7 linked regions of the Homo sapiens genome follow. The protein of the gene in region 1 purifies or fractionates together with the protein of each later gene. This does not show direct contact. Each region holds a gene or a part of one and is shown in the gene's direction. Other genes may lie near its edges.

What was found.
Region 2: the proteins of NASP (region 1) and DCTN2 fractionate together in Homo sapiens (co-fractionation; one large-scale study listed by BioGRID). This does not show direct contact.
Region 3: the proteins of NASP (region 1) and SMC4 fractionate together in Homo sapiens (co-fractionation; one large-scale study listed by BioGRID). This does not show direct contact.
Region 4: the proteins of NASP (region 1) and TSR1 fractionate together in Homo sapiens (co-fractionation; one large-scale study listed by BioGRID). This does not show direct contact.
Region 5: the proteins of NASP (region 1) and OTUB1 purify together in Homo sapiens (co-immunoprecipitation; one large-scale study listed by IntAct). This does not show direct contact.
Region 6: the proteins of NASP (region 1) and RBBP4 purify together in Homo sapiens (co-immunoprecipitation; 5 studies listed by BioGRID and IntAct, with this or other methods). This does not show direct contact.
Region 7: the proteins of NASP (region 1) and VCP fractionate together in Homo sapiens (co-fractionation; 2 studies listed by BioGRID). This does not show direct contact.

What each region holds. Positions count from the first base shown.
Region 1 is NC_000001.11:45,611,176-45,615,605, forward strand, and holds part of NASP (nuclear autoantigenic sperm protein), read left to right. Parts: intron 1-1,993; coding exon 1,994-2,073; intron 2,074-2,920; coding exon 2,921-3,006; intron 3,007-3,117; coding exon 3,118-3,191; intron 3,192-3,837; coding exon 3,838-4,026; intron 4,027-4,129; coding exon 4,130-4,296; intron 4,297-4,430. UniProt on the Homo sapiens protein: Component of the histone chaperone network. Binds and stabilizes histone H3-H4 not bound to chromatin to maintain a soluble reservoir and modulate degradation by chaperone-mediated autophagy.
Region 2 is NC_000012.12:57,540,224-57,544,653, reverse strand, and holds part of DCTN2 (dynactin subunit 2), read left to right. Parts: intron 1-1,663; exon of another isoform or gene 1,664-1,678; coding exon of another isoform or gene 1,679-1,708; intron 1,709-3,281; coding exon of another isoform or gene 3,282-3,290; intron 3,291-4,430. UniProt on the Homo sapiens protein: Part of the dynactin complex that activates the molecular motor dynein for ultra-processive transport along microtubules. In the dynactin soulder domain, binds the ACTR1A filament and acts as a molecular ruler to determine the length.
Region 3 is NC_000003.12:160,398,236-160,402,449, forward strand, and holds the start of SMC4 (structural maintenance of chromosomes protein 4), read left to right. Parts: upstream 1-1,414; 5' UTR 1,415-1,514; intron 1,515-2,323; exon of another isoform or gene 2,324-2,586; 5' UTR 2,587-2,591; coding exon 2,592-2,730; intron 2,731-3,679; coding exon 3,680-3,858; intron 3,859-4,214. UniProt on the Homo sapiens protein: Central component of the condensin complex, a complex required for conversion of interphase chromatin into mitotic-like condense chromosomes.
Region 4 is NC_000017.11:2,323,269-2,326,479, reverse strand, and holds part of TSR1 (pre-rRNA-processing protein TSR1 homolog), read left to right. Parts: intron 1-1,059; coding exon 1,060-1,176; intron 1,177-1,215; exon of another isoform or gene 1,216-1,650; coding exon 1,651-1,791; exon of another isoform or gene 1,792-1,901; coding exon 1,902-1,976; exon of another isoform or gene 1,977-2,105; coding exon 2,106-2,284; 3' UTR 2,285-2,606; coding exon of another isoform or gene 2,607-2,825; 3' UTR 2,826-3,134; coding exon of another isoform or gene 3,135-3,211. Other genes in the region: SRR (serine racemase), read right to left, coding at 2,607-2,825, 3,135-3,211. UniProt on the Homo sapiens protein: Required during maturation of the 40S ribosomal subunit in the nucleolus.
Region 5 is NC_000011.10:63,992,597-63,997,026, forward strand, and holds part of OTUB1 (ubiquitin thioesterase OTUB1), read left to right. Parts: intron 1-3,933; coding exon 3,934-4,052; exon of another isoform or gene 4,053-4,260; coding exon 4,261-4,345; intron 4,346-4,430. UniProt on the Homo sapiens protein: Hydrolase that can specifically remove 'Lys-48'-linked conjugated ubiquitin from proteins and plays an important regulatory role at the level of protein turnover by preventing degradation.
Region 6 is NC_000001.11:32,683,939-32,687,120, forward strand, and holds the end of RBBP4 (histone-binding protein RBBP4), read left to right. Parts: coding exon of another isoform or gene 1-151; 3' UTR 152-319; coding exon of another isoform or gene 320-444; 3' UTR 445-2,273; downstream 2,274-3,182. Other genes in the region: SYNC (syncoilin), read right to left, coding at 1-151, 320-444. UniProt on the Homo sapiens protein: Core histone-binding subunit that may target chromatin assembly factors, chromatin remodeling factors and histone deacetylases to their histone substrates in a manner that is regulated by nucleosomal DNA.
Region 7 is NC_000009.12:35,062,250-35,066,679, reverse strand, and holds part of VCP (transitional endoplasmic reticulum ATPase), read left to right. Parts: coding exon 1-5; intron 6-1,298; coding exon 1,299-1,429; intron 1,430-2,394; coding exon 2,395-2,526; intron 2,527-3,599; coding exon 3,600-3,702; intron 3,703-4,329; coding exon 4,330-4,430. UniProt on the Homo sapiens protein: Necessary for the fragmentation of Golgi stacks during mitosis and for their reassembly after mitosis. Involved in the formation of the transitional endoplasmic reticulum (tER).

The sequences.
Region 1 (4,430 bases):
GAAAAGTAAATACTTCATCTTCCCAATTTGTAGGAAAAATTAAATTGATATTGTTATCTTCTATTCTTACCTGGTATCTCTTCCTACTCATACCAGAATACTAGAAGACAACCTCTAATTTGAAACAAAATATCTTAATTACTTGGAAGTTTTACATCAAATTTTTAAATTAAAATTCCTATAATTGCTTCAGAAGAATATTACTGGTTCCTCTTGAGGAATCTGTACCATCTTCAAGGAATGGTGGGGAGCTAGGTTAAGGAGAAAGCCATCGCCATTACTTTTTTTTTTTTTTTTTTTTTTTTTTTTGAGACAGAGTCTTGCTCTGTCACCCAGGCTGGAATGCAGTGGCGTGATCTAGGCTCACTGCAACCTCCGCCTCCTAGGTTCAAGTGATTGTTCTGCCTCCGCCTCCCGAGTAGCTGGGACTACAGGCATGTGCCACCACGCCTGGCTAATTTTTTGTATTTTTAGTAGAGACGGGGTTTCACCGTGTTAGCCAGGATGGTCCCAATCTCCTGACCTGGTGATCTGCCCACCTTGGCCTCCCAAAGTGCTAGGATTACAGGTGTGAGCCACCGCGCCTGGCAGCCATTGCCATTACTTTAAAACCTTTCCCAACTTGTGCCCAGGTATCAATGGCAATGCCCTGATGTCCTCAGTAAATTTGTTAAAGTATCTTTTTTTTTTTTTTTTTTTTTTGAGACGGAGTCTTGCTCTGTCACCCAGGCTGGAGTGCAGTGGTGCGATAATCCGCTCACTGCAAGCTCCACCTCCTGGGTTCACGCCATGCTCCTGCCTCAGCCTCCCAAGTAGCTGGGACTACATGCGCCTGCCACCACACCTGGCTAATTTTTTTGTTTTTTGGTTTTTTTTTTTAGTAGAGACGGGGTTTCACCATGTTCGCCAGGATGGTCTCAATCTCCTGACCTCGTGATCCGCCCGCCTCGGCCTCCCAAAGAGCTGGGATTACAGGCGTGAGTCACCGCGCCTGACCCTGTTAAAGTATTTTCTAAGCTTCTTTGAAAACGGAATCTCTTTGTGGTTGCTGCTGATAAAACTCCTTTGACCTGACGATTGCTCTAAGTCCTAATTGCCATATTTATATTCCCATAGTAAGAGTGTTTGGAGATAGTGTTTGAGCTTTTTTGCTGGTGTTAAAAATGCATAATGAAAGATGGCAGAGAGAGGCATATTATATCCAATTCATGAGTTGTTTGTGTTAACAGAAAGCTTATTTTAATCACTTAACATTGTTGATTTGTCTAATCACAGTAGCGCTATTGATTAGGAGCCTGACCTTTAGATGGTTGACTTGTGAGTGTATTCAATATGGTGAAATATGGTGTTGATATATGGCTGCAGATTTTAGAGGTGTCATTAGCAAAGGTATAGGAGTAAAATAGGGGTTATAGTATTCCTTACTCAAATTCTGTATGTGCTAGAGCTGGCTGGAGTCTGTGGCATGCTCATTGGTGTAAGTCGGTAAGGACTATGCTTTTTGCTCCACATCTCTGTTGTGGGAAAGCTAGTCTCTTGAGCATTCTTGATCAGAATGGACTGGAATAATTTAACTTTCGTACTTTCCCAGGCTATTAGTATTATCTAATGAGTGGCTTAAAGATACCAGAAACACTGACTGAGGTCTCCACCTGCTTCTGGCTGAATGAATGGGAGCTTCTAGCCATTGAATAAGAGGCAGTAGCCAATGTTTCTTATTCTGAATGGTCCAGGTTGACTTTTATAAGAGAAACACTCAGCCTTTTAATTGCTGAAGGTCTGACCCATAGACTAAGATTGCACATTCTTAGTCTAGGTTACACTTGAACTAGACTGCACCCACTGACGATATATTCAGTTCAGGTGTTAACTCACTTGGATTAGCATCTGGCCTGTCCTATCTGAATATAGGTTGAGACGTGTATTGGAATCTCTGACTAGTCAGAATACGTTCTTAGTTATATTCTCAATACTGAGGAATTTTTACTTGTAGAAACTGAAGGCTCAGAAGAGGATGATAAAGAAAATGATAAGACCGAAGAAATGCCAAATGATTCAGTCCTTGAAAACAAGGTATGTTGTTAGCCACTCAGTACTGTTGTCAGCCTTTTTCTGTTTTTGGGAGACTGGAGCTCACTCTTGTTGCCTAGGCTGGATTGCAGTGGGGTGATCATGATCATGGCTCACTGCAGCCTAGACCCGGGCTTAAGTGATCGCCTCACCTCAGCCTCTCAAGTAGCTGGGACTACAGGCTTGTGCCAACATGCCCAGCTAGTTTGCAGGACTGTAGCTTACCTAGTTTAGGCACGATTATTATTTTTTTAAGAGATAGAATCTCTGTCTCTGCCCAGGCCGGAGTGCACTGGCATGATCAGGGCTCACTGTATCTTTAGCCTCCTGGGTTCAAGGAATCCTTCTGCCTCATCTTCTCAGATAGCTAGGTCTCCAGATGTCTGCCACCATGTCTGGCTAATTTGTTCTCTAATTTTATTTTGTTTAGACGGCTGTCTTGCTGTGCTGCCCAGGCTGGTCTCAAACCTGGCTTCAAGTTATTCTCCTGCCTCAGCCTCCCAAAGTGTTGGGATTATAGGCATAACCCACCATGCCCAGCCCTAGGCATGATTATTATAGATAACTGTCTCTTGATTATGGATTAGGGACCCTTTATTCATGCCTAGGATGGGTGGATATATTTGATCCTGGGGTTCTTGTGTGTTAGTATGTGAGCCAACATTTCACTGTTAAAATATCAGTGACATGGTCATGACTTAAGACAGTATGTGGACCCATTCTCTAGATTTTAGGGAGAAAGTCCAAATTTTGAATCGTATATCAACTTTTTTTAAGCTACGCTAAGTTATACATTTAGATTTGTATTTGAAAAAGATGCCTATCTTTTTATTATTTGGTTATACTTTAGTCTCTTCAAGAAAATGAGGAGGAGGAGATTGGGAACCTAGAGCTTGCCTGGGATATGCTGGATTTAGCAAAGATCATTTTTAAAAGGTAAAACTCTTGGTGCTTCTAGGCTTGGGTTGGGAGTTTGGTGGTTAAATAGAAACCAGTTAGGGTTAGACAGGTACTGTTAAGGTTTTTGATCAATTTTCCTTCTTTTAGGCAAGAAACAAAAGAAGCACAGCTTTATGCTGCCCAGGCACATCTTAAACTCGGAGAAGTTAGTGTTGAATCTGGTAATGCATTTTCCATTTTATACTCTCCTACTCTCTTCAGCTCCCTCGTTCTTCCTCTAATAGATTCTCTGGAACCGAACTTGATCTTTAAAAAGATAGGTCTGTGTTCCCTGTAGACCCTGGAACAATGAACAGTCTCTTCCAAGTGGCACTCAGTCTTCCAGTAGGTTTGTTTTGTTTTGTTTTTTTTGAGATGGGGTCTTGCTGTGTCGCCTAGGCTGGAGTGCAATGGCGTAATCTCGGCTCACTGCAACCTCCGCCACCCGGGTTCAAGCGATTCTCCTGCCTCAGGCTCTCGAGTAGCTGGGATTACAGGCACCCACCACCACGCCCGGTTAATTTTTGTATTTTTAGTAGAGACGGGGTTTCACCATATTGGCCAGGCTGGTCTTGAACTCCTGACCTTGTGATCTGCCCGCCTCAGCCTCCCAAAGTGCTGGGATTACAGGTGTGAGCCACCACGCCCAGCCTCAGTAGGTTTTTAAAAGTCATTTTGACTTTCTTTATAGCCAAGGGTCCTGGAAATAACTATAAACAAAAATGGAATGTTAAATATGGGTGCATTCCCATAGGATGGGTCTGAATTCTGGAAGTATTTTATGTTGAATGCTGTCCATTTACTTGCTCTTCTTTTTCTCTTTGTTAGAAAACTATGTGCAAGCTGTGGAGGAGTTCCAGTCCTGCCTTAACCTGCAGGAACAGTACCTGGAAGCCCACGACCGTCTCCTTGCAGAGACCCACTACCAGCTGGGCTTGGCTTATGGGTACAACTCTCAGTATGATGAGGCAGTGGCACAGTTCAGCAAATCTATTGAAGTCATTGAGAACAGAATGGGTGAGTGAAGACGAGCTGCTTCATGGTGATGTTGGATCCAGCAATTAACAAGGAAGAAAACAGTTCTTTTTTGAGCCATTACTAATCACTTTATTCTTTTTAGCTGTACTAAACGAGCAGGTGAAGGAGGCTGAAGGATCGTCTGCTGAATACAAGAAAGAAATTGAGGAACTAAAGGAACTGCTACCCGAAATTAGAGAGAAGATAGAAGATGCAAAGGAGTCTCAGCGTAGTGGGAATGTAGCTGAACTGGCTCTGAAAGCTACTCTGGTTGGTTCCGTTAACATTTTGATAATAGCATGTTTGGTACCATTTATGTTAATGTTCTATTTGCCAGGAACTTTTCATCATGACTTGGTTTCCAGGGAGTTGGTGGGCTCATCTAATTATTCCTATCAAGTAAT
Region 2 (4,430 bases), on another chromosome or scaffold:
TGGGAGGCTGAGGCAGGTGGATCATTTGAGGCCAGGAGTTTGAGACCCCGTCTCTACTAAAAAATATAAAAATTAGCAAGGCGTGGTGGCGAGCGCTTATAGTCCCAGCTACTGTGGAGGCTGAGGCAGGAGAATTGCTTGAACCTGGGAGGTGGAGGTTGCAGTGAGCCGAGATTGCGCCACTGCACCCCAGCCTGGGTGACAGAGCAAGACTCCATCTCAAAAAAAAAAAAACCAGTACAACAATAAAAAAAAAAACAAAATTTAAAAATACAATATAACAACTATTTACATAGCATTTACATTGTACTAGGTATTTTAAGTAATCTAGAGATGATTCAAAGTATACAGGAGGGTGTAGGTAGGTTATATGCAGTTACTATGCCAATTTATATAGAAGATGGGAACATATGCAGATTTTGGTATCAAGGGAGGTCCTGGAACCAGTCTCCCACAGTTGCCAAGAGACAGCTGTATGCTGAGAACTTTACTGCACTACCACAGTTCAGACTGTTCAACTTAGGCCTAGGCTTCTGCCCTTCATGGTGAGATAATGAATAGAACTCAGTCCTTTTGTCGCTGTGATACAAACAGGTAGTTTCACAGTAATCCTCTTTCTAAACAAAAAAATACATATTGTCATTCCCTTTTGAAGATACTGGGATATCTCTTAATAAAAAGGAGATGACACCCATTCCAGGTGTGGAAGAACCTGACTGTGCAGCTCTGATTGGCTGTTTCTCCCCCAGAGCCTGAACAGCCTATTTTAGTAGCATCTAGTGGGGTGGCTGATGAGGAGAGGATACTGTGAGTGTTCATTTCCTGTGGCATGTTGCCCAGGATGCCAGTATAGAAGTGCATATGAGCTGAATGGCAAATACAAGAAGAGCTGAATTGTTTCTGTCACCTAAGGCTCAGCTAAGTGACTCTCTGTCACTAGGGAGGAATGGGGTGGGCAGACCTTCAGCCACTTCAGGGGCCCGAAGAGCCAAGATGTTTCCTGATGTCAGCTAATGTCTCTGGCCCCCGCATGTCCCTATGGGGCTTGCAGCTTTTGGGAAGTCAGCTGAGTAATGGCTCTGCCACTGCTTTTAATACTGACGTAAATATGCAATTTGAGGAGCAGTGAATTGTATGCTTAGATAATCTAGAAATGTCATGTCCGTGAGGCCTGGGATCTCACCAGCAGCCTGTCTGTTTCCTGCCTACCTGCCCAAGACCTAGTACAAGTGACAGTGCACATGACCTGTCTTGTGGCTGAACCATGAGATTTTCAGTCACCTTCTTTTTTTTTCTTTTTTTTTTGAGACGGAGTCTCACTCTGTCGCCCAGGCTGGAGTGCAGTGGCGTGATCTTGGCTCACTGCGAGCTCCACCTCCCGGGTTCACGCCATTCTCCTGCCTTAGCCTCCCGAGTAGCTGAGACTGTAGGCGCCCACCACCACACCCGGCTAATTTTCTTGTATTTTTAGTAGAGACGGGGTTTCATGTGTTAGCCAGGATGGTCTCGATCTCCTGACCTCGTGATCCGCCTGTCTTGGCCTCCCAAAGTGCTGGGATTACAGACGTGAGCCACCATGCCCAGCCTCAGTCACCTTCTTAACCCCTGACAACAGCATTCTCCGCCTTAATCTTCAGTTTATTTTCAACTTTAATTTTATCAGTTTTTAAAGTAGGTAATGTATGCACAGGGAACAGAGGATTCAAGGGTAAGTAGTGAAAAATCTGCCTCCCACCTCTGCCTACCACCACTCAGTTCTCTTCCCTAGAGACAACCAATATGGATAGACTCTTGTGGAACCTTTCAGGGGGTCTCCAGATTTCTTTTTGGTTTTTGAGACAGAGTCTCACTCTTTCCCCCAGGCTGGAGTGCAGTGGCACAATCTTGTCTCACTGCAACCTTTGCCTCCCCGGTTCAAGCGATTCTCCTGCCTCAGCCTCCCAAGTAGCTGGAATTACAGGCATGTGCCACCACACCTGGCTAATTTTCTGTATTTTTAGTAGAGATGGGGTTTCACCATGTTGGCCAGGTTGGTCTCGAACTCCTGGCCTCAAGTGATCCATCCATCTTGGCCTCCCAAAGTGCTGGGATTACAGGCGTGAGCTACCATGCCAGCCGGGTCTCCAGATTTCTGTCTAAAGGAATAGTCAAGTTGTGTTGACCCTCACTGCTCCATAACTTTCTTCCTGTGATTCCTCCACTGTGGAAGAAATTGGGCTACTAAAGGAAAAATGTCCTCAAACATCCCTTAAAGATTTAAATTGCTAATTTAACTTAAACATAAACATTTTCCGATTCCCATAGTGGGGAGGATGGGGGAGGAAAGCATAAAAGATTTAAATTTTGCTACAGATGATCGTGAATTTTTTTTTTTTTCAAGATGGAGTTTCACTCTTTTTGCCCAGGCTGGAGTGCAATGGCGTGATCTCAGCTCACTGTAACCTCCACCTCCCGAGTTCAAGAGATTCTCCTGCCTCAGCCTCCTGAGTAGCTGGAATTACAGGTGTCCATCACCACACCCGGCTAATTTTTTGTATTTCTAGTAGAGACAGGGTTTCACCATGTTGGCTAGGCTGGTCTCAAACCCCTGACCTCAGGTGATCCACTCACCTAGGCCTCCCAGAGTGCTGGGATTACAAGCATGAGCCACTGTGCCTGGCCAATCCTGATTTTTCTACTATCCCTTTAAAACAATTTTAGCAGGAAGTAAAATCTTCTAAAACAGGAATGGACCAGGAAAGTGCACGGGCTGTAGCCCTTTCCTCCTCAATCTGGGAAGATCTCTTTGCACTTCAGACACTCCCAGGTTAATTGGGGCAATAGGCTTGCTTGGAGATTTTTCTTAAAATGTTTGGAAAACTAATTCCCAAATAGAATTCCACCCACACACACACCCCGACCCTAACCCCTGGGCCCACAGCCTGCCTTGGGTCAGTGAGGCTTTCTGCTCATGGCTTTTGAACTGCTGGAATAAGGGAAGTAAATTAAGAAAAACCTCATTAGAAACAATTTAGCTTCTCTCTTTATGGCATAACTACCCGCAGTAAAAGGGGAAAAAATGACCTAGCCATAGTTTGATGGGGCCCTGGCAGAGGCTTCATTTCTCCAAAAGGTAGATATTACTGGACACTCCTGAGATGAGAAACAGTACTTCCTTACAGTTTAGAAGATCCTGGAGTATGCTTGATTGTGTTCATTGACTGTTGGCGCACTTGAACTTACCTGAGTTTTTCCTAATGCTTCCCCCATCCTCCCTCCTCACCACCTTGCCTGGACACTAGTTTGCACAAGTAAGACCATTCAATGCTTCTTCTCTGCATGTTTTTTTCATCTGCCATCTCGCATGCAATGCTCTGCCACTGTGCTATTGTTGTAGCTAATCGTTTTAAATTCCAGTGAGTCCCTGGCTGGGTCACTGAGGGGCCTGCTGGCCTTATGTTTAAAGATCATTAATCAAGGGTTAGAAACAGCTATGATCCATGAATCATTGTCTCTTCCCCTTGTGAGGTCTGCAGAGTAAAACTGTCCAGTGGAGGATGGGATAGAAGCATGGAGGCTTTAAATGTTTTTGAACATGAGGCATTTAGGGGCTGGAGTTAGAAGGCAGTTTCCTTTCTCCTCCTCAGACTAAGATCAAATGAAGATTTTTTTATGGAATGACTTTTAGCTATTCTAGACAAGGATAGAAAACAAAAGGGATGACAGCCACAGTCCTCAGTTCTTGGCTGTATGTGGATTATCTCTGGGAAAAACTCATTTTAATATTCCCCTATGCTAGGTCTTTAGAGAAATGTAAATGGGATGAGAAGGAGGTTTATATGCAATTGTAAGATAACTTGGATTATTTGTGCTTTTGTGAGTCTTTCTGTTTCTGCACCCCTCCTTTTGAAATGGATGGATGGTCAGCAATATATTGATCCATCCCGGACAGTTTTACTCTACAGCTCTGTCCATCTTCCTTGTCATCATGGTTTTGAAGTACCCTGGCTGCAGTGTTGGCGTACAGCCTGAATAGGCTCAGAGAGTAACAGTGGCCACTTTCCCTGTCTGATTTAGAACCTCAGATCTTGCCCTCTGAGGCACAGCCACTTAGCCAAACAGCCCTGGGGGGTCTGGGAGTCCCTTAGTGAAAGAGACTGGGAGTCACGTACTAGGTAAGCTGGCACCCGGGGCCAGGGCACTTGAAATCTTCCAATCAAGGTGACTAGTACTACTCCAGGTTATGCAGGAATCATGCCTAAAATCTCATCAACCTTCAACCCACCCATAGGACAGACCTGGAGGTGGTATATACTATCTGCAAACTAATATACCACTTTTCCTTTTATTTGATTTTCTGTCCTCCCTATTCTGCCCAATCCGCATGGTTTGAAATTGAGCTTATGGCCCATTGTCTTCTTTCTCTCCTTGAGTTTCTCCCAAGCTGGTTT
Region 3 (4,214 bases), on another chromosome or scaffold:
TTGGGAGGGGGGTGGCTCTCCACACCTTTTTGAGAATCACTGAACCTGACTTCATGCTCTTCCAGGGAAGAACCATAATGTATTTAGAGTGATCATGTAAATTCATTCAAAAGGGAGATTTAATGGTGATTTAACATGCCAGACCCTAAGTAAGCAAAAGTTAAAGAAAAAAAAAGGAGGCTAGTAGTTCTCAATGTCAAGTACTTAAGAGTTGTTGCATGAATACTGGAGATAGTCAAATGAGCCAGTGGCTCTTTAACAATATAGGGAATTAGGAGCAAGTATGAGATTCTGATTATAAAGTTGTAGGAAAACTAACTTCCCAGAAAAATGCACATAGAATTATGTATACAATGTCAGGCGAGTTATGAACTCTGAAGCCCAATCACCTACCACCAGATCCACAGACCTCAGGTTAAAAACCCACTAAAACTAAGTTCTCGGGGAACAGGAATCGCCAAACTTGCTTACTAATTCTAATTATGCCTTACCCAGGGCAATGTATACAAACACTACTTAGGGAATATTTGCTGATCGATAATTTCCTCATAAAAATAACCATAACACTGGCGAGTCGTTTTTTCCACTAAAGAGCCTTTTAGTCAAATTATTTTAAAAGTCCTAAACCTTTCACTAGTAACACCAATGATCTCGAAAATCATTATTGCGCTATTCACATGTCGACTAAGCTATCACGAATCCAGGTCTTCCAGTTGTCTCTCTACTCCCTTAAAATTTAGGGCTTCCTCCTTCGCATCCCAAAAGCTACACCCGGAGCCCCGCTGCCGCCAGGGAGACAGAAAATGATGCTCCACGAAGCACACAGCTTCAAAACAGGAAAGATGGGATCCAGTGATGGCTACAACTTCCAAACCCTTTTCTCACCAGGTCCAGAGGTGAAGGGATTTACCTCAAGTTCCAGGAAAGCGGTGGCGATTGCTCTCAAATACCTGGTACCTCCCCGTCACCATAGTGACTTCTAAGAGTTACGCTCCCTTCCTCTTCCCGCGATACTTCTACGCGGCACGTCATCCGAGTGGGCCCGAGACCCCGCCTCTCGGCGAGCCCGCCCTCTTCTGAAGAGGCGTTTCTGGACCACTGAGCCCCGCCTCCCACTGTGAGCGGAACCCTACCGTTTTTAAAAAAATCTTTTTCAAAACTTGCCAGGTTGTCTTTCCAAATATTTTTAATAATAGTGCTGCTGCTGTAGACCACAGAGAAAAGAATCCCTCGCTCTTCCTTTTCACTTAGTAGAAACTTCTACCGCGTAGGTCCCGCCAGGAGTTCGCGCATGCGCAGGAGCGACAATAAGATGGCGGTGATAATCGCCGCACTTTTTTTCAAATTAGTGGATCCCAGAAATCATTGCGCGCATTTGTAACGAATTTCCGTTCGAGTTTGTATTTTAGGCGCCATTTTCGAGTGAAGGACCCGGAGCCGAAACACCGGTAGGAGCGGGGAGGTGGGTACTACACAACCGTCTCCAGCCTTGGTCTGAGTGGACTGTCCTGCAGGTAAAGTACTTCTCTTCCTGGTCAGGTTGTCACGCTCTTACTTCCTGCCTTGTCCGCGAGCGCCTGGAAAATAGAGGCCTTGAGCCCGAGCGGCGAAGTCCGGGCTTGAAGCTGCCGCTGGGAGATTTCTCTTGCTGTCACCCCTCCCCCCTCGGCCGCTCCCCGGCGGCCCGGGCTCCCGCGCGCAGCTCCCGGGCGCCACTTTTCCAAGCTACTCAAATGTCTCGGGGAGGCCCTGAGCCTCGCAGATCTTTTCTTTAAAAAATCCTAGTCTCTATCTGGAAAAGGGCGTCTCCCCCTACCCCTCTTCCTTCTGCCAACGGACTAGTCACCGGGTCTCAGCCTTCGCTGGTGACCTTTCATGGTTTACTGTCCAACGGGACTCCGCCTGGGGAGCTGGAGAGACAAACTCTTGCCACTCCAAAATTAGCAAGCGCTGCCAGCGTCCGACTTGAAGTTGCTAGTGGTTAGTCCCAGCCTTCGCCCTTCGCGGTCCGACCGCTGAGAGGAGGGAGACTTCGTTATGCCCCGGGCCGTCAACGGCGCCAGGAGCTAAAGGGCGGGCAGACGAAAGCGGGCGGCGAGTCGCCAGTTAGTCTTCACCGCTCTGGAGAGAGTTGCTAGCCACGGGATCCTGACCCGGACACGAACTCGTTTCTCCACGTCGGTGCGCGCTTGCATCCCTGGCCCCGAAAGCGTGGGAATGTCCGGAAATGCTGGCGTATGGGAGTTCCTTAATTAGAAATGCGTTAGCGAATATTATACGCTTATACTATGGGCGGACGGGTGGAGAGCCTTAAAAACAACAACAACAAACTAAGCAGTTGCTCAATCGTTGATTGATCCTCAGGCACGTCTAGATTTTCCCACTTACATAGGTCTTGTTAAGAAACCAGTCCTGCCTTCTTGCCACTCGTGTCTTTCGATGGCTCCCTTCCCGAAGTCCCGCTGCCTCTAAGCGGAGTGTTAAGCGGGGCTCTCGGAAGCCGGTGGACCGAGATTTCCCCGGGTGGGGCGGGCGCGGTGTAGCGGCCCGCGGGCTGACTTGCTCCCGGCTGTCCCCCGGCCCCAGCGACCATGCCCCGTAAAGGCACCCAGCCCTCCACTGCCCGGCGCAGAGAGGAAGGGCCGCCGCCGCCGTCCCCTGACGGCGCCAGCAGCGACGCGGAGCCTGAGCCGCCGTCCGGCCGCACGGAGAGCCCAGCCACCGCCGCAGGTGAGTGACCCGCCGCGACTCGGCGGGAACGCGCGCTGTGGGACTGGCAGGCAAACGCGCCCAGCCCGAGGCTGGCTGGGGTTGTTGAGCGCGGAGTTGACATCTGAAGGTCCGGTGTCGGTCCGGTAGAGGCTCAGGAAAGCCATTTGGCAACTTTGAGATAGGATTCCCGTGCAATTTTGGTGTAACGGCGCTGGAAGGGATGGGGGCGAGCAAACGGGTTCAGTTGTGAATTTTTGTTTGTGACCTGTGGAATGGTACAGGTCACAAACAAAAATTCAATATCTTTATTGTATTCCCGCTAAAATCGAGACGGTCAATCAAGAGAGCAAGTGGACTTTTTTCCCAGAGACAATCAATATGACTATGTGAGCATGATGAAAAGTTTTTTGACCCTAACCTCACCTCCGTGGTGTTAGATTGCCGTTAAAGAGAAGACGATAATTTATTTGAAGCCACTGTAGCTTTTGTGAGTCCAGGAGTTGGGTGACATTATTAAACCCTCGTGGCAGTGTCGCTGAAGTTCATGAGTTTCCAAAATGAAGGTTCCAGGTGCTCAGCGGTACGGAGAATTGCATCTAGAGCCTTAGGATTTAACCTCCTGTTTAGGATAGGCAGCAGGAAATAGCTTGTTACGGTTTTCCCAGATTTGCTCTATGATGTAGTGTTTTGACTCTTAAGAGGTATAGGTGTATAGAATTTTGTGACCGGTGGCATTTCTTTCAAGAATTTCTTTTTTAGTAAAACCAAGCTGAAGGTTTAGTCACCCCCGTGAGTTTAAGATAATAACATATTTAAGTGGAAAATATAGACTCCTAAGTTTCATAAATAACATCCCTCCATCCCCTACTTTAAAGATGGGCAGTCATTAGTTCTCCGAACTAATTGCACTAATGTAGGCTTTTCCCCCGCCGTTTGCCTTCGTTTTCCTTTCCTTTCACTGACTTAGAGACTGCAAGTGAGGAACTTGATAATAGAAGTTTAGAAGAGATTTTGAACAGCATTCCTCCTCCCCCGCCTCCAGCAATGACCAATGAAGCTGGAGCTCCTCGGCTTATGATAACTCATATTGTAAACCAGAACTTCAAATCCTATGCTGGGGAGAAAATTCTGGGACCTTTCCATAAGGTATTTGTATGGAAATAACTATTTTATAACTTTTTAAATAACTATTGTAAGGTAATACGTTTTTACAAGATGTTTCAGTTTTGTAACTATCCTAAAATTCATTCACTCCCTATTTATCCTGATAGTCTTTCTGTCTCTCTCTCTCACACACACACACACACGTTTCATATGATTTTAACACTGAAATTATCTTTTGTTTATCTGGTTATCTTTGGTACCTCTAGTTACAAAGTTTTCCATTGAATGGAGTCGGTGTGTGTTTCTGTTTGAAAGAGTATTTTCCCTTGGATAATTTTTTTTTCTTAAAGCCTTCTATGGAACCCTTAGATAATTTAACTATAAAATGAGTTTTCTAA
Region 4 (3,211 bases), on another chromosome or scaffold:
GGTATGGCTCATAGTTGGGTAAAGCAGAGGTAGGGGTCCTGAGATACTGAGAGACTACTGGACGGGACTTGCAGCAGAAATGATTGTCTCCTACACAGTAGGAGCAGGAAGATATGTTGCCCACTAACTTGGGGGCTTCTGAACATCGTCCTAGTTCACTCACTCTCAGCAGTGGCAGGAGGAATATGAAGAAAGCAGTATTAATGGTGTTTTGGATAATTTTTATTCTCACCAATTGTGAGAATCACAATCTCTAAGTGAGATTAATTTTTCTTTGCCTTAAAATATTTTATTTTCCTTTAAGTTTAGTATTTTAAAAAGGAGGTGAGGGCTACCTTGAAGGTAGAACATCAAATACAGTCTAGGCTCCAAGATTCTGACTCCAGATAAAAAAGTTACTGATCAGGCACCTGCAATTCCAGCTATTCGGGAGCCTGAGGCAGAAGAATCACTTGAACCTGGGAGGTGGAGGTTGCAGTGAGCAGAGATGGCACCATTGTACTCCAGCCTGGGCAACAAGAGCGAGACACCATCTCAAAATAAATAAATAAATAAAAAGTTACTGATACAGCCTGGCGCGGTGGCTCACGCCTGTAATCCCAGCACTTTGGGAGATTGAGGTGGGTGGATCACAAGGTGAGGAGTTCGAGACCAGCCTGGCCAACATGGTGAAACCCGGTCTCTACTAAAAATACAAAAATTAGCCGGGCGTGGTGGCATGTGCCTGTAATCCCAGCTACTCAGGAGGCTGAGGCAGGAGAACTGCTTGAACCCGGGAGGCAGAGGTTGCAGTCAGCTGAGATCACACCATTGCATTCCAGCCTGGGTGACAGGAACGATACTCAAACTCAAAAAAAAAGAAAAAAAAAAAGTTACTGATAGGACTAGATCGTATCTTTTAGGTGCATTGAGGCAGCGAAAATTTTTGAGAACTGGTGGTTTAGAGAAGTAGAAGCTGCCATAGGTTTAAGAGTTGCACTAATACAGCTTTTCACAGGCCTCTATCACCTCTGGTTTCTCAAAATGGTTTTGCTTTTCATTTTTTAACCCTTATGGCAGCGGACAAACATAAATTGCAGAGATTCCTGACTGCTGACATGGCCCTGGTGGCGACAGTCTATGCGCCAATCACTTTTCCTCCTGCATCTGTGCTGCTTTTCAAGCAAAAAAGCAATGGTAAGTTGAGCCACAGAGATGAACAGACCCTGCAGGTCCTTAATAGATGAACACCGTTTTCTCTTGTTTATTTAAATTTGGGAGCCAAATGGTATGGAGAAGGTAATGATGGTTTTCAAAATACAGTAAGTCTTCATTTAACATTGTTAATAGAACAATGAAAACTCCAACTTTTACGTGAAACAGTGTATAGCCAGTCCTCAAATAACTGCCTTTTGTTCAACATCCTTTCCTTGTAACAACTGATGAGAAAAAGTATGGTTTTGTTATACATCATTTCTCTTGAAGTACAAGTTTTCAAGAACCTATTGACAAGGTTAAGTGTGGGCTTACAGTTTACCAATCTTAGCCTCAGATTGGGCTAGGGCAGGGATGACAAACCAGGCTCTTGCATGGGTCTTTAAATGGACTGGGCAATAAATGAAGACTTTGGCCTGTAAATTCCTAAATAGCTTCTTTGCTTTTGTCCTTTAGGAATGCACAGCCTCATTGCTACAGGCCATCTTATGTCAGTAGATCCAGACAGAATGGTCATCAAGAGAGTTGTTCTGAGTGGTCATCCTTTCAAAATTTTTACTAAGATGGCAGTAGTACGTTACATGTTCTTCAACAGAGGTGGGTATGAAGGAGGAGGATGGGATCTGATTGCCTTTGTGGTATAAAGGTTGGGTTTACATTTTGTGGGTAAATGTTTCATCTTGGTCTTTAATGTGTTTGATTCTAAGAGGATGTGCTGTGGTTTAAACCAGTGGAACTGAGAACGAAGTGGGGCCGGAGAGGACATATCAAGGAACCTTTAGGTAAGGAAACACGGGATTTGAGACCATGTCTGCATTTCTGCAGTGTTGCTAAATGACTGTTGGGTTGGAAGTCATTGCTTTAAAATTTTCTACTTTTAATTTGACCGACTTGTTCTGATGTCTTTCTAGGTACCCATGGCCACATGAAATGCAGCTTTGATGGGAAGCTAAAATCTCAAGACACAGTACTGATGAACCTGTATAAACGAGTCTTCCCCAAATGGACTTATGATCCATATGTACCAGAACCAGTACCCTGGCTGAAAAGTGAGATTTCTTCAACAGTGCCTCAAGGGGGCATGGAGTAATGGATTCAAAGAGATTCTGTCTTACCGGTGCCAGTCAGTACTCCAGGGATGGGAGGCACAAGTTGTGATTGGGCAAAGTTTATTTTCTATGTCAGCCTGTCAGTCCACTGCCCCATTTTGCAAGACTTTTTTTTAGCCTTGACAAAATGTCTCAGTTAAGTATAAAAGTTTTTCCACTACTTAGTCCAAAAAAAACTATTAAATCTTAATGAAATAGCCACTCTCCATTAAGAATCTGATAACTAAGAGTTGACAATACTAGGAAACAAAATGTCTTCAGTATCTAAAGACACTGAATTCCCACCATTTCCTTTTCTGTAAATTAAACAGAAACAGACTGATAAGAAGCTGGCCTTTCAGCCTGCTTCACCCAAGTTATGGAGGAGGTTAAGTCTACATTTCCACCACTGAGCACAATACAAATGTTCTTTACTTCTGGGGAAACAGTTTGAAAATGTTGAGACAGCACAGCAGCCACTCCAACACCAGCTGTAGGTTCAATGAGTAGTTTCATCCTCTCCCACACCAGCTGGGTTGCACACTGTTGATATGGAAGGGAGTAGGAATTAGTGAAAGGGGAGTCTAGTTGGTTTACCTATAAAGTTCAGATGAGAATACGTGTCCAGTTTGAATTTTCTTATCACTGTGTACACACGCTTCCCAAAGCTTTTCTTTAATTCTGACTCTGCTTCTGTCAAGAGGGTTGTCATTAATACATCTAGGGTACCCTCCCATGTCATGAAGTTACCTAGTCAGGTTCCCGTGGGTCACTTGCTACTCCTAAGGGAAGTTTCTTCTGCCTAAGAAGTTACACCATGCTTTGCTATTTCTTTTCTTGCTGGAGCCTCACCTTAATTTCATCCTCTGTGACAGTGAAGATATCATCCACAAGGTCCCTGATAATAGGCCAGGTGTTCAAGCCAATGC
Region 5 (4,430 bases), on another chromosome or scaffold:
CTGGAGTGCAATGGCACCATCTCAGCTCACTGCAACCTCCACCTCCCGGGTTCAAGCAATTCTCCTGCCTCAGCCTCCTGAGTAGCTGGGATTACAGATGCTCGCCACCATGCCTGGCTAATTTTTGTATTTTTAGTAGAGGTGGGGTTTCACCATATTGGCTAGGCTGGTCTTGAACTCCTGACCTCAAATGATCCACCCACTTTGGCCTCCCAAAGTGCTGGGATTACAGATGCCCACCACCATGCCTGGCTAATTTTTGTATTTTTAGTAGAGGCGGGGTTTCACCATATTGGCTAGGCTGGTCTTGAACTCCTGACCTCAAATGATCCACCCACTTTGGCCTCCCAAAGTGCTGGGATTACAGGCCTGGGCCATCACGCCAAGCCGACCCTGGCCATTCTCTTGCTGGGGTGAGAATAAACTCCAGAGGGTGAAGGGGAGGCAGGGACACTGCCAGGAGACTTGTGCAGTAAAATCTGCTGGAGGCGGGCAGCGGGTGGTAGAGGTGAGGAGTAAGAAGCAGTTGGATACCAGACATATTGAAGGGATGGATATGGTGATGGAGTCGGCAGCGACTGGAAGGCTTTGGGTGCTGTGGGTGACTGAGGTGGGGCAGCCTCGGGGAGGAGCAGTTGTTCGGAGGTTGATCTCAGCTGCACTCAGTGGAAATGCCTGTTGGACAGTTCAGAGGAGGTGTGGTGAGGCTGGTAGATAGGAGGATCGTAATTGGAGTTGAGAGTTGAGATTCACACTTGGGGCTATTTAAATCCTTGAGACTTTGGCTAGGGGCAATGGCTCATGCCTGTAATCCTAGCACTTTGGGAGGCCAAGGTGGGTGGATCACTTGAGGGCAGGAGTTCAAAACCAGCCTGGCCAACATGGTGAAACCCCATCTCTACTAAAAATACAAAAAAATTAGCCGGGCATAGTGGCGCGCGCCTGTAGTCCCAGCTACTCAGGAGGCTGAGACAGGAGAATTGCTTGAACCCGGAAGGCGGAGGTTGCAGTGAACCGAGATCGCGCTACTGCACTCCAGCCTGGACGACAGAGCGAGACTGTCTCAAAAAAAAAAAAAAAAAATTGCTTGAGACTGATGTCGTCAAGAGAGCAAGTATAATTTACATTTTTGTAGAGATGAGGTCTTGTTGTGTTGCCCAGGCTAGCCTTCAACTTGATCCTCCCCCCTTGGCCTCCCAAAACACTGGGATTACAGGTGTGAGCCACTGTACCTGGCCATGAGAGTGAGTGTAGTTTCAAAGAGGAAGCTGGCCGGGTGCGGCACTTTGGGAGGCCGTGGCAGGCAGATCACATGAGCCCAGGAGTTCGAGACCAGCCTGGGCAATATGGTGAAATCCCGTCTCTACAAAAAATACAACAATTAAATGGGTGTGGCGGTGTGCACCTGTAGTTCCAGCTACTCTGAAATCTGAGGTGGGAGAATTGCTTGAGCCTGGTAGGTTGATGCTGCAGTGAGCCGTGATCTTGCCACTGCACTCCAGCCCAGGTGACATAGAAAGCCCTGTCTCAGAAAAGAAAAAAAAAAGAAAAGTGGAAGCTGTCCCAGGCCTGAGCAGGGCGGGGTAGGCACATGGGAGACAGCCCTCATGCCCGTGGTCACATGGCAGGCACAGTGGCTAAGTGTGCAGTGACTGTTTTCCTTTTTCCTTTTTTGAAACGGAGTCTCCCTTTGTTGCCCAGGCTGGAGTGCAGTGGAGCGATCTCGGCTCACTGCAATCTCCACCTCCTGGGTTCAAGTGATTCTCTTGCCTCAGCCTCCAGAGTAGCTGGAACTACAGGTGTGTGCCACCACGCCCAGTTAATTTTTGTATTTTTAGTAGAGACGGGGTTTCACCATGTTGGCCAGGATGGTCTTGATCTCTTGACCTCGATATCTGCCTGCCTCAGCCTCCCAAAGTGCTGGGATTATAGGCGTGAGCCACCACACCCAGCCTCAGTGACTGTTTTCTTGCAGGTGACACACCATGTCTCGAAGGGTGCTGTATGGTTTGGTGGCATCCCTGACCCTCAGAGCTTAGAGAGATGAGGAGTGGCCTTGGAGGCAGGAGGAAGACAAGGAGAGGGTGGGGGCGCCAGCCCAGGGAAGGAGGCATCTAGGCAGGGCCACAGCCAGTGGCCTCAGTTCTGCTAAGGGGCCAGTGGGGGTGGGGCGCTGGGTTTGCCCCCTCTGATTGAGGGCGTTCAGCTGACCTTGGCTAGAGCAAAAGCCTCCCGAGGGAGAAAAGAGGTGGAGGCAGCACGGACAGCTTCATGAGGAGTTTTGCTGTAAAGAAAGCAGAGAAATTGAAGGGTAGCCAGACAGAAACGTAAAGTCCAGGATTCCCTTCCTTTTAAAGAAGTAGCTGAATGTGTATATGCTGTTGGGTCTAAACCAGTAGGGTGGGAAAAATTGATGATGGGGGTACTTCCTAGGATGATGTCTTTTTTTTTTGAGATAGGGTCTCACGCACTCTGTCACCCACGCTAGAGTGTAGTGGTGCCATCACAGCTCACTGTAGCCTCGACCTCCTGGGCCCACACAGTCCTCCGACCTCAGCCTCTCGAGTGGCTGGGACCACAGGATGCACCACCATGTGCAGCTCACTTGCTTATTTTTCAAGATGGAGTTTTGCTCTGTTGCCCAGGCTGGAGTGCGATGGCGCAATCTCGGCTCACTGCAACCTCTGCTTCCCGGGTTCAAGCGATTCTCCTGCTTCAGCCTCCCGAGTAGCTGGGATTACAGGCATGCACCACCATGCCGAGCTAATTTTATATTTTCAGTAGAGATGGAGTTTCGCCATGTTGGTCATGCTGGTCTCGAACTCCCGACCTCAGGTGATCCAACCACCTCAGCCTCCCAAAGTGCTGCGATTACAAGCGTGAGCCATCGCGCCCAGCCACTTATTTTTTTTAGAGAGACGGGGGTCTCACTGTGTTGCCCAGGCTGGTCTCGAACTCCTAGGCTTAAGCGTCCTCCCACCTTGGCCTCCCAAAATGTTGGGATTATAGGTGTGAGCCATGGCGCCCAGCTTGGAATGATGTGCTTGAGCCTGAGGGTGGGGGTGGGCTAGTGTGGAGTGGAGAGGCAGCTTAGGTGGCAGCTGGAACAGATCCTCTGAGGATTGTGGGAGGAGGCCAAAGGCAGATGTGCTGGTGGGGGCTGAGGAAAAAAGACAAGGTCATCAGCTGGGGGTAGGAGCAAGATGGGTAGGGGAGAGGGGAGGGTGCCCAGGCCAGGGGAGTGAAGTGTGCTTGCCAGGTGAAGTGTGCGTGGTGGGTGGGCACCTGTAATCCCAGCTACTTGGGAGGCTGAGGCAGGGGAATCGTTTGAACCCGGGAGGTGTAGGTTGCAGTGAGCCGAGATCGCGCCACTGCACTCCAGCCTGGGCAACAAGAGCAAAACTCTGTCTCAAAAAAACAAGTAGAGGAGGGAGGCTGTTTCTAGCCCCAGGAGGGCTGCGGGCAAGGCTTAGAGGTGGGGGAACTCTTCTCAGTGTGGCGGGAGCGGGGCTGAGCTGGGCTGTGCAGAGGGCCCCAGCCACCTGGTTGAGGCGTGGAGGCCAGCACTCCACCCTGGCCCTGACTTGCTTGCCCTGAAGTTCTCTTGGGCTGAAAGACTGGAGGAAACGCATTGCTCAAGGACATTCACTCACCTGTTGTTGTACAGTCCTGTAGGCCCCGCAGAACTTTAGTGACCCATGCAACTAGTTTGTCCTTAAGTGCCCAGCTTCCTGCCGTCTTTTGGGAGGACTCTGGGCAGTGGGCCGCTCCCATTGCCACATTCAGCAGCCTGTTTCAGGGACCCAGGGTGGCAGGTGGCTGCTGGGAGCTCAGTTGCCACCTTTGGAGTGTGACCTTTGCTGGGGGACATTTCCTTGGCCAGCCCCCGTTCTGGCCTGATGTTAACCTGTCGGGGTGGGGCTGTCTCCGCAGGACCTCCACAAAAAGTACTCGTACATCCGCAAGACCAGGCCTGACGGCAACTGTTTCTATCGGGCTTTCGGATTCTCCCACTTGGAGGCACTGCTGGATGACAGCAAGGAGTTGCAGCGGTGAGAAGGGTGGGCACTGGGCACCGAGGCAGGTGGGTGTCTACCTCCTCCCCGGGCGAGTAGGATGTGTCTCGAGTAGGGTGTCTCCCTCCTTCCCGGGCGATGGGCTGGACTCTGGCCTTGCCAGGCGGGGCAGTGCTGTCTCGGCCCTGGCGTCTGGGCTGGTCGAGGAGCCCATGCTGGGCCCGCCTTTCCATCCCACCCCCAGGTTCAAGGCTGTGTCTGCCAAGAGCAAGGAAGACCTGGTGTCCCAGGGCTTCACTGAATTCACAATTGAGGATTTCCACAACACGGTGAGCCCTGGTGCCTGTCTTGGGCTGGGCCATGGGGGAGGGGTTCACCTGGTGAGGACCACCCATCTCCTCCCCGTCATCTTGC
Region 6 (3,182 bases), about 13 Mb from region 1:
TAAGGCATTAATTAGTATTGTTAGGAAAGCAGTAACAATGCAAACACCACTCTTCTCTTCACAAAGATCACCTTGAGACTGTGTCTCCATTCCACCTGCCTGAGAAGTGGGAGCATCAGCCTGTTCCAGGCTCTTGGGTAGTAGCATAGCCCTTTAAAAAGAGAGAGCCATTTTCCATGTGTTTTTGGATAAGCACAATTTGAAAATCATTTCCCAAATCCTCTTTTTGTTTTTGATTCTAAGGTAAAATTTTCCCTAAGCCCTCCCACCATCCCCTCAGCCAGTATTAGATGAGATTTGTATAGCAGCAGAAACTGACTTATAAGTAGAGAGCTCTTCAGCAAGACTGAGCCTTAGCTGTTCCATCTCTTTGTTCTTCTGTTGCTGGAGTTGCACCCCATTTCTTAACTGCCTCTGGCGTTCTTCCATTTCCTCCAGCTGTTCCTGCATGAGATGGCCAAGAACATTTCTAATGAGCCAAACAATAAAAACTCACATTGTCCACTCTTACTTATAAAACACTTTTTTGTTCATTGTTTAATCTTGATAGCAGTATTGAGGCTGGTATTTATATGATAGGTTATGAAACAGGTTCAAAGAAGTTGTGTCTTGGAAAAAAAGTGACAATGCTTTTGAAAATGATGACGAAAAAGGCATCTTGTCTGTTAACCACAGCTTGCTTTAATAGAATCCTGGGAGGGTGATTGGGACTTTTTAGTATTACAACCTTAGTGTCATTGAGGAGGATTTTGGTCTAGTTAGTGGGCTGAGTTTCATATACCTCTCCCTCCATGTGCAGGTTTGTTAAGATAATTGGTAGTTTTTAATAATATAAAATACTTAAGTTGAAATACAAAAGTGTGGCAACAATTATTAAATATTGGCTAGAATTCTAGGAGAGTTACACAACTAGTGGAAGTCCATGTTTAGAAAATAAATGGCTTGTTTAAGGAAAAGTTTTTGTGTCCAAAGCTCCTTAAAGTCAGAGAGATTTCTACCTGGTACTTAACATCATATGGAAATTGATGCTTTAGTGAGGGTGTTGGCTATCCTATTGCTAATTTCCTGCATCCTTTTTTCTTCTTTATTTTTGTATAGAGACAGGGTCTCGCTATGTTGCCCAGGCTGGTCTTGTTCCTGGGCTCAAGCAGTCCTCCCGCCTCGGTCTCCCAAAGTGCTGGGATTACAGGTGTGAGCCACTGTGCCCAGCTTATCCTTTTTTCATTACACAAAAAGACTGAATTTGGTTAGTTCTAAGTTGGAAGATAAAGATGGTATGCACAGGAGGCCCTTGGGAGCCCTCAGATAACTTTCTCATTCTTCCAGAATCAGGCTGGGATGCATTCTGTAAATTTTCCCTGCCTAGGATGTATACCTGAGGAATAAGGTAAGGAAGATGTCAGCAAGTCAGTCTCTGGTTTACCTGCTAGCTGGCATGGATCCTTAAGGAAGCAGGAGGGAGTTGGGAAGAGAGGAAGGGGTGAAGTTGGTATCTTTTAAAGCGAGAGTGATTTTACCTCAGATTTTGAAGAATACTAAGGAATCCAGTTGTTGGGGTACATGCTATTATTAGAAGGATCTAGATAATTTGTCCTCTGAGTCATACTTGACATTGTACCTGTGGCACATCAATCCGCACTGTTTGATACTCTGGCTGAATCTCAGCTTTCACCAACATTGTCAAAGGACCTTTTTTAGTGCCCAGCCATGCCTAAGAGTGTGTCATCTGAAGAGGGAAGCATCTGCATACTGCTGTCCTGATTGCTCAGTCCTCACTACCTACCAGACCCGTTGGTAAGGTACAAAAGTACATGCTTGGAAAAGCAGTCTGCACCACCAGTGATAAGCTGTGACAGAGTGGAACAGCCTCAATGAAATGAAGGAAGGATTGCTACAGTGGCATTAAGGATGGTCTCTTAATCCTGTGTTAACCACTAGATTAACTTTACAATCAACTCAAAATCCTTCAAAGGCTTTCCACTTTCTTTAGTGGCATTCAGACCCCCTCTAGTTTGACCCCTACCTCCAACTTGAACCTCTGTTACTCTTCCGTATGAACATTTTCCTCTAGCCCTGGACTACTAGTACCGAAGTCACTAGTCACATAGGACTCATTTGAAATATGACTAGTCTCAATTGAGATGTAATGTAAGTGTAAAATACACAGCAGATTTCTAAGACAGCACACAAAATGTAAAATATGTCAAAAATATTTGATACTGATTACATGTTGAAATATATGTGTTGGGTTAAATAAAATGCATTAAAGTTAATTTCATCTGTTTCTTTTTTTAATAGAGCTACCAGAACATTTAAAATGACATCTGTGGCTTGCTTGCAGTGATAGACAGCACTACTCTAGCCTAACAACTCAGATCTGTGTGCCTGTGTTCCTGCCACTTTTTTCACCTAGACAGCCAGTCCCTTGTTTTCTGCTGCCTTCTACCTAGATACTAATTTCTCAAGGGCCAGGACATGTCTGTCTACAGTTGCCCCAGCACTTGCATTGACAGCATTGCCAGTTTTAATTTTCTACATAGGACAAAGACAAAGAAAGGATACATTCCCCAACTCAGGAAAAGGGGAACTGCTACAGCAATAGTAGTATAAAGTAACAGGTGCTGTGGAAACAGGAGGGTTATCTGTCGCACACTAAGGATATCGGGAAACTTCAGGAAGAAGGGAAATGGGTTTAAAGGATGAGTAAAGAGTTAAAGGGGAAGAAGAGGTCTAATCAATGTATAGTCATGGAATTGTGGGAAAGTGGCTTACTAGTTCATTCCTTGCAACCCTATGGATATGGGAGTATTATTAATCTCATGTTTCATGTGAGGGTGCTGAGCCACAGAGCTTAAGTAATTTGTCCAAAGTTTCCAACTTAGTGATAGAGCCAGGATTTGCCATTGGCTTAGAGCTCATACTCAAGGTAACAGGCTTTTTAGTGGTTCTCAAACTTTTCTGTGCAACCCCAAAAGCTGGCCAAATTGGAGTGCCCTTGGTACTTTTCCGTTAGAGAATAACTCCGCTTTTAACTGCTTTATATATTGCATTCTATGTAAAATTATCTGGGGGAGAAGGTCCACAGCTTTAGAGAAAACTTTAGTTTTGGAAACCACTAGTCTAAAGAATACATAAAACTGGCCAGGCACAGTGGCTCATGCCTGTAATCTCAGCATTTTGGG
Region 7 (4,430 bases), on another chromosome or scaffold:
GAAAGGTGAGAGCTAATTCTGAGCTTAAGGATTATTGACTGTAGGGAATAAACCTTGGAACATCTTTATCTCATTTTCTTTTTCTTTTTTTTTTTTTAAATCTTTTATGCTTTTCCCCTGTATTTATTTATTCATTTTTTAAGAGATGGGGTCAGCTGGGCACCGTGGCTCACACCTATAATCCCAGCAATTTGGGAGGCTGAGGCGGGTGGATCACTTGAGGCCAGGAGTTTGAGACCAGCCTGGCCAACATGGCGAAACCCCATCGTGGGCACCTGTAATCCCAGCTACCTGGGAGGCTGAGGCATGAGAATTGCTTGAACCCAAGAGGTGGAGGTTGCAGTGAGCCAAGATTGGGCCACAGTACTGCAGCCTGGGTGACAGAGCAAGACTCTGTCTCAAAAAAAAAAAAAAAGAGACAGGGTCTCACTATGATGCCCAGGCTGGTCTCAAACTGCTGGGCTCAAGTGATCCATCTGCCATGGCCTCCCAAAGTGCTGGGATTACAGGCATGAGCCATCAAGCCTAGTCTCATTTTCTTTTCTTTTTTTTTTGAGACAGAGTGTCGCGCTGTCCCCCAGGCTGGAGCGCAGTGGTGCAATCTCGGCTCACTGCAACCTCCGCCTCCTGGGTTCAAGCAATTCTCCTGCCTCAGCCTCCCAAGTAGCTGGGATTACAGGCGTCTGCCACCACGCCCGGCTAATTTTTGTGTTTTTAGTAGAGACGGGGTTTCACCATGTTGGTCAGGCTCGTCTCGAACTCTTGACCTCAGGTGAGCCACTGTGCCCGGCCGCTAGACTCATTTTCATATATTTGTATACACACACATGCAAACCCTGCACACATATTCATATGTCTTACCCTCTTTTTTTCCTCCATCCTTCCTTTGCTCCATCTCTCCCCTTCTCTGTTCCAGGAGAGTAAGCTATCTTTATGGATCTCTGAAGGAGAAAGTGGTCCATTTTGGCTGGGTCAGGGTCCAGAGTGCACAGTTCTACCATTGGTGGTTGTAGTGAAAACTTGGGCTACCTATATGGCAGAAGTCAGAACTTGATGGGCTTCTGACATGTCAGGTTTTGTTCACTGACCTCTTGTCAGAGGGACTCTTCACAGTTTACCTTTCTCATCTTGCCTGCTGCTTATTAAGACAGGTGGGGTGGAGTTGGGGAGAGGTAGGGCAATATCTAATGAAGGGCACTATCTAATGAGCTTGGCATTTTGACCCCAGGGTCTGATGAGTTCTCACTTTGTCTTGTAGTTGACACCTCTAACTGTGCTTGTACTGTTTGCTCTCGCAGGAGACATTTTTCTTGTCCGTGGTGGGATGCGTGCTGTGGAGTTCAAAGTGGTGGAAACAGATCCTAGCCCTTATTGCATTGTTGCTCCAGACACAGTGATCCACTGCGAAGGGGAGCCTATCAAACGAGAGGTGAGTTTTCTCCCTGATTCCAGTATCCGATTTTATGATTACTCAGTGTGGCATCATGTGGTAACTGTCAGGACTGGGTGCTCGGCCGGCTGCGGTGGCTGACACCTGTAATCCCAGTACTTTGGGAGACTGAGATGGGCAGATCACTTGAGGTCAGGTGTTCAAGACCAGCCTGGGCAACATGGTGAAATCCCATCTCTACTAAAAATACAAAAATTAGCCAGGCATGGTGGTACACATCTGTAATCCCAGCTACTCAGGAGGCTGAGGCAGGAGAATCGGTTGAACCCAGGAGTCGGAGGTTGCAGTGAGCTGAGATTGTGCCACTGCACTCCAGCCTGGGTGACAGAGTGAGACTCTGTCTCAAAAAAGAAAAAGACTGGGTGTTCTTTGGAGAACTAACCATCTTTCAGGGATGAGAAACCTGCCAGCTATTCATTTCTGGGCCTAATTGTTTCTTGGATTTACCTAATGCCAGGAATTTCAAAAAACTAGACTGAACCCAAAATATATAAGTGATTGAAATCATTTTTGAAGTAAAGCTGATGGTGGCTTCAGGCCTCTGCCCATTCCCAGGGTTTCCAGCTTCAGATTTTAGAGACCCCTTCTCAGTAAGACTACGAGTAATGTGAGAGGCAAGGACTGTGCTAGAAATCTTTGCCTTGGGATTTTTGTAGTTGTTCTTTGAGGCCGGATCCCTTTAGAGGAGAATCTTTTTTAAATTTAATTTAATTTTTAATGAGATGGAGTCTTGCTGTATTGCCCAGGAACTCCTGGACTCAAGCATTCCTCCCACCTCTGCCTCCCAAAGTGCTGGGATTACAGATGTGAGCCACCATGCCGGGTTGAGAATCTTCTTATACGGTAGGTTTTTGCACACTAGGTAGTGGAATGATTTAGAGAAACTCAGCTTTTGCTGATATAATATTCTTGCCTTCTCCTTTCTTTATCTCCTCCATATTCAGGATGAGGAAGAGTCCTTGAATGAAGTAGGGTATGATGACATTGGTGGCTGCAGGAAGCAGCTAGCTCAGATAAAGGAGATGGTGGAACTGCCCCTGAGACATCCTGCCCTCTTTAAGGCAATTGGTGTGAAGGTGAGCATCCTGGGCTCTGGAATCAAGTCTAAAGTGGTGCCAATGTCTAATCCTGTCCCAATGTCTAATCCTGGGACTGTTTTCATGCATGGCTTTCATTATTGCCTTGGATTAGAGGGGCAATAACGTATCCTTTAGTTTACCTAAGGCTCTAAATTCATTAGAGCTGATGGTCTAAAACCAGAGTAGGCTAATCAAATTGTCTGTTGTGTGCGTGTGCGCACAAAACACACACACATATATATATGGGTTTTTCTTTACAACTCTTAGAATATAAAAGCCATTCTTGTATCAATGGACCCTGTAAAAACAAATCTCACCATAGTTTGCCAGCCTGTCTAGAGCAATGTCACCCAGTAGAAGTAAGGAAGTTAAGGAAATTTTCAGAGTGTTAAAGGGTTCTGAGTCTAAAACATTTGAGAACTATTGGTCTAGAGTGTAGCTTCTCAATCTTTTCCTAGTGGGAAAGTGTTTCCATGGAACACACTGAAGATGAAGTTACTCATTTTCCTAGTGGGTGGCACACAAATAATTTCATTTTCTATGTGGACAGTTTACATGTTCTGCTTGTGGATGAGGCCATAGAAAGGGTAGTGTTGAAGAAGAAAAATGATGATTGTAAGGAACAGCATTCCAGTGTGATAAATTCTGGAGGGCATGATTACTGGAGTGAGTGATCCTCTGGCAATGAAGAAAATAGACCCTGCTCTCTTAAATGGCTTAGCTAGTCTTTGGCCCTTGGTCTGTCTAAAATTGAGCCCTTAGTGTAATGGCCTCTTGCCTTTCCCTAGTCATGTATCTTCAAACGCATTTGGACTACAGTTTCTCTGCCCTTAGTCTCCTATGCAAGTTGCAATCATAAATGTTGCCCACTTTCTAGCAGTATTTTCCCTGCTAGTAATAGAAATGAGTGTGGCCTAAAGTAATTGTCTTCTTAGCATTTACTGCGGAGGGCTTATTCTTAATATTGTCAGGGTTGAAGCCTGATTCTCACCCTCTCTGGAGCGCTAGTCAAGCCATTTTAGGGTTTGGGAGAAGGTGGGAACCTAATCACACTCTGCATTGGTCCACAGCCTCCTAGAGGAATCCTGCTTTACGGACCTCCTGGAACAGGAAAGACCCTGATTGCTCGAGCTGTAGCAAATGAGACTGGAGCCTTCTTCTTCTTGATCAATGGTGAGATATTTGGTTCATCTTATGTCTAGCTAGACCCAATTTTGAACTGGGCTTATGAGCTGGAGCACTTATGAACACATCCTTTTTGCACCCATGCCCTCCTTCATGTTTATAGCATATTTCTTATGCTGGGGTATGTTACAGACAGAAGAGCAATAAAGGGAAGATATTTTACATTGGTGCTCCCTGTCCTGCCCCCTTTGAGAAAGATTGTGGACAGACTGCAGAGCGGGAGCAAGCTAGAATGAGAAATCAAAGGGTGAATGGTTAGTGATTTGAGAGGGTTTGGGGCAAATGAACTTTGATCACTGGCTCTTGGAGAATGCTGTTTAGTGGTGTGCCATCTGGTGTGCCATCTCTCTTGCTCTAGCCAGAGGTCCTAGAGCATTTGCTGTCACCTTTACAGTTCAACTGTGAGAAGAGTATAGTGAGTCCCTGGGCTTCTCTCCAGCCTTGCCTGGTGGCTGTCCTGGGATAATGGCTGGTAGAGGATGTGAGAAGTAGGCAGAGGTTACCACCTTCTCACCCAGGACCTGTCTCTGGGCCAAACAAGCAAGATAACTGATTTTTGGGAGGAATTGGGAAAGACTATCATTTTGTTATTGTCTCCATTCTGTATCCTTTCAGGTCCTGAGATCATGAGCAAATTGGCTGGTGAGTCTGAGAGCAACCTTCGTAAAGCCTTTGAGGAGGCTGAGAAGAATGCTCCTGCCATCATCTTCATTGAT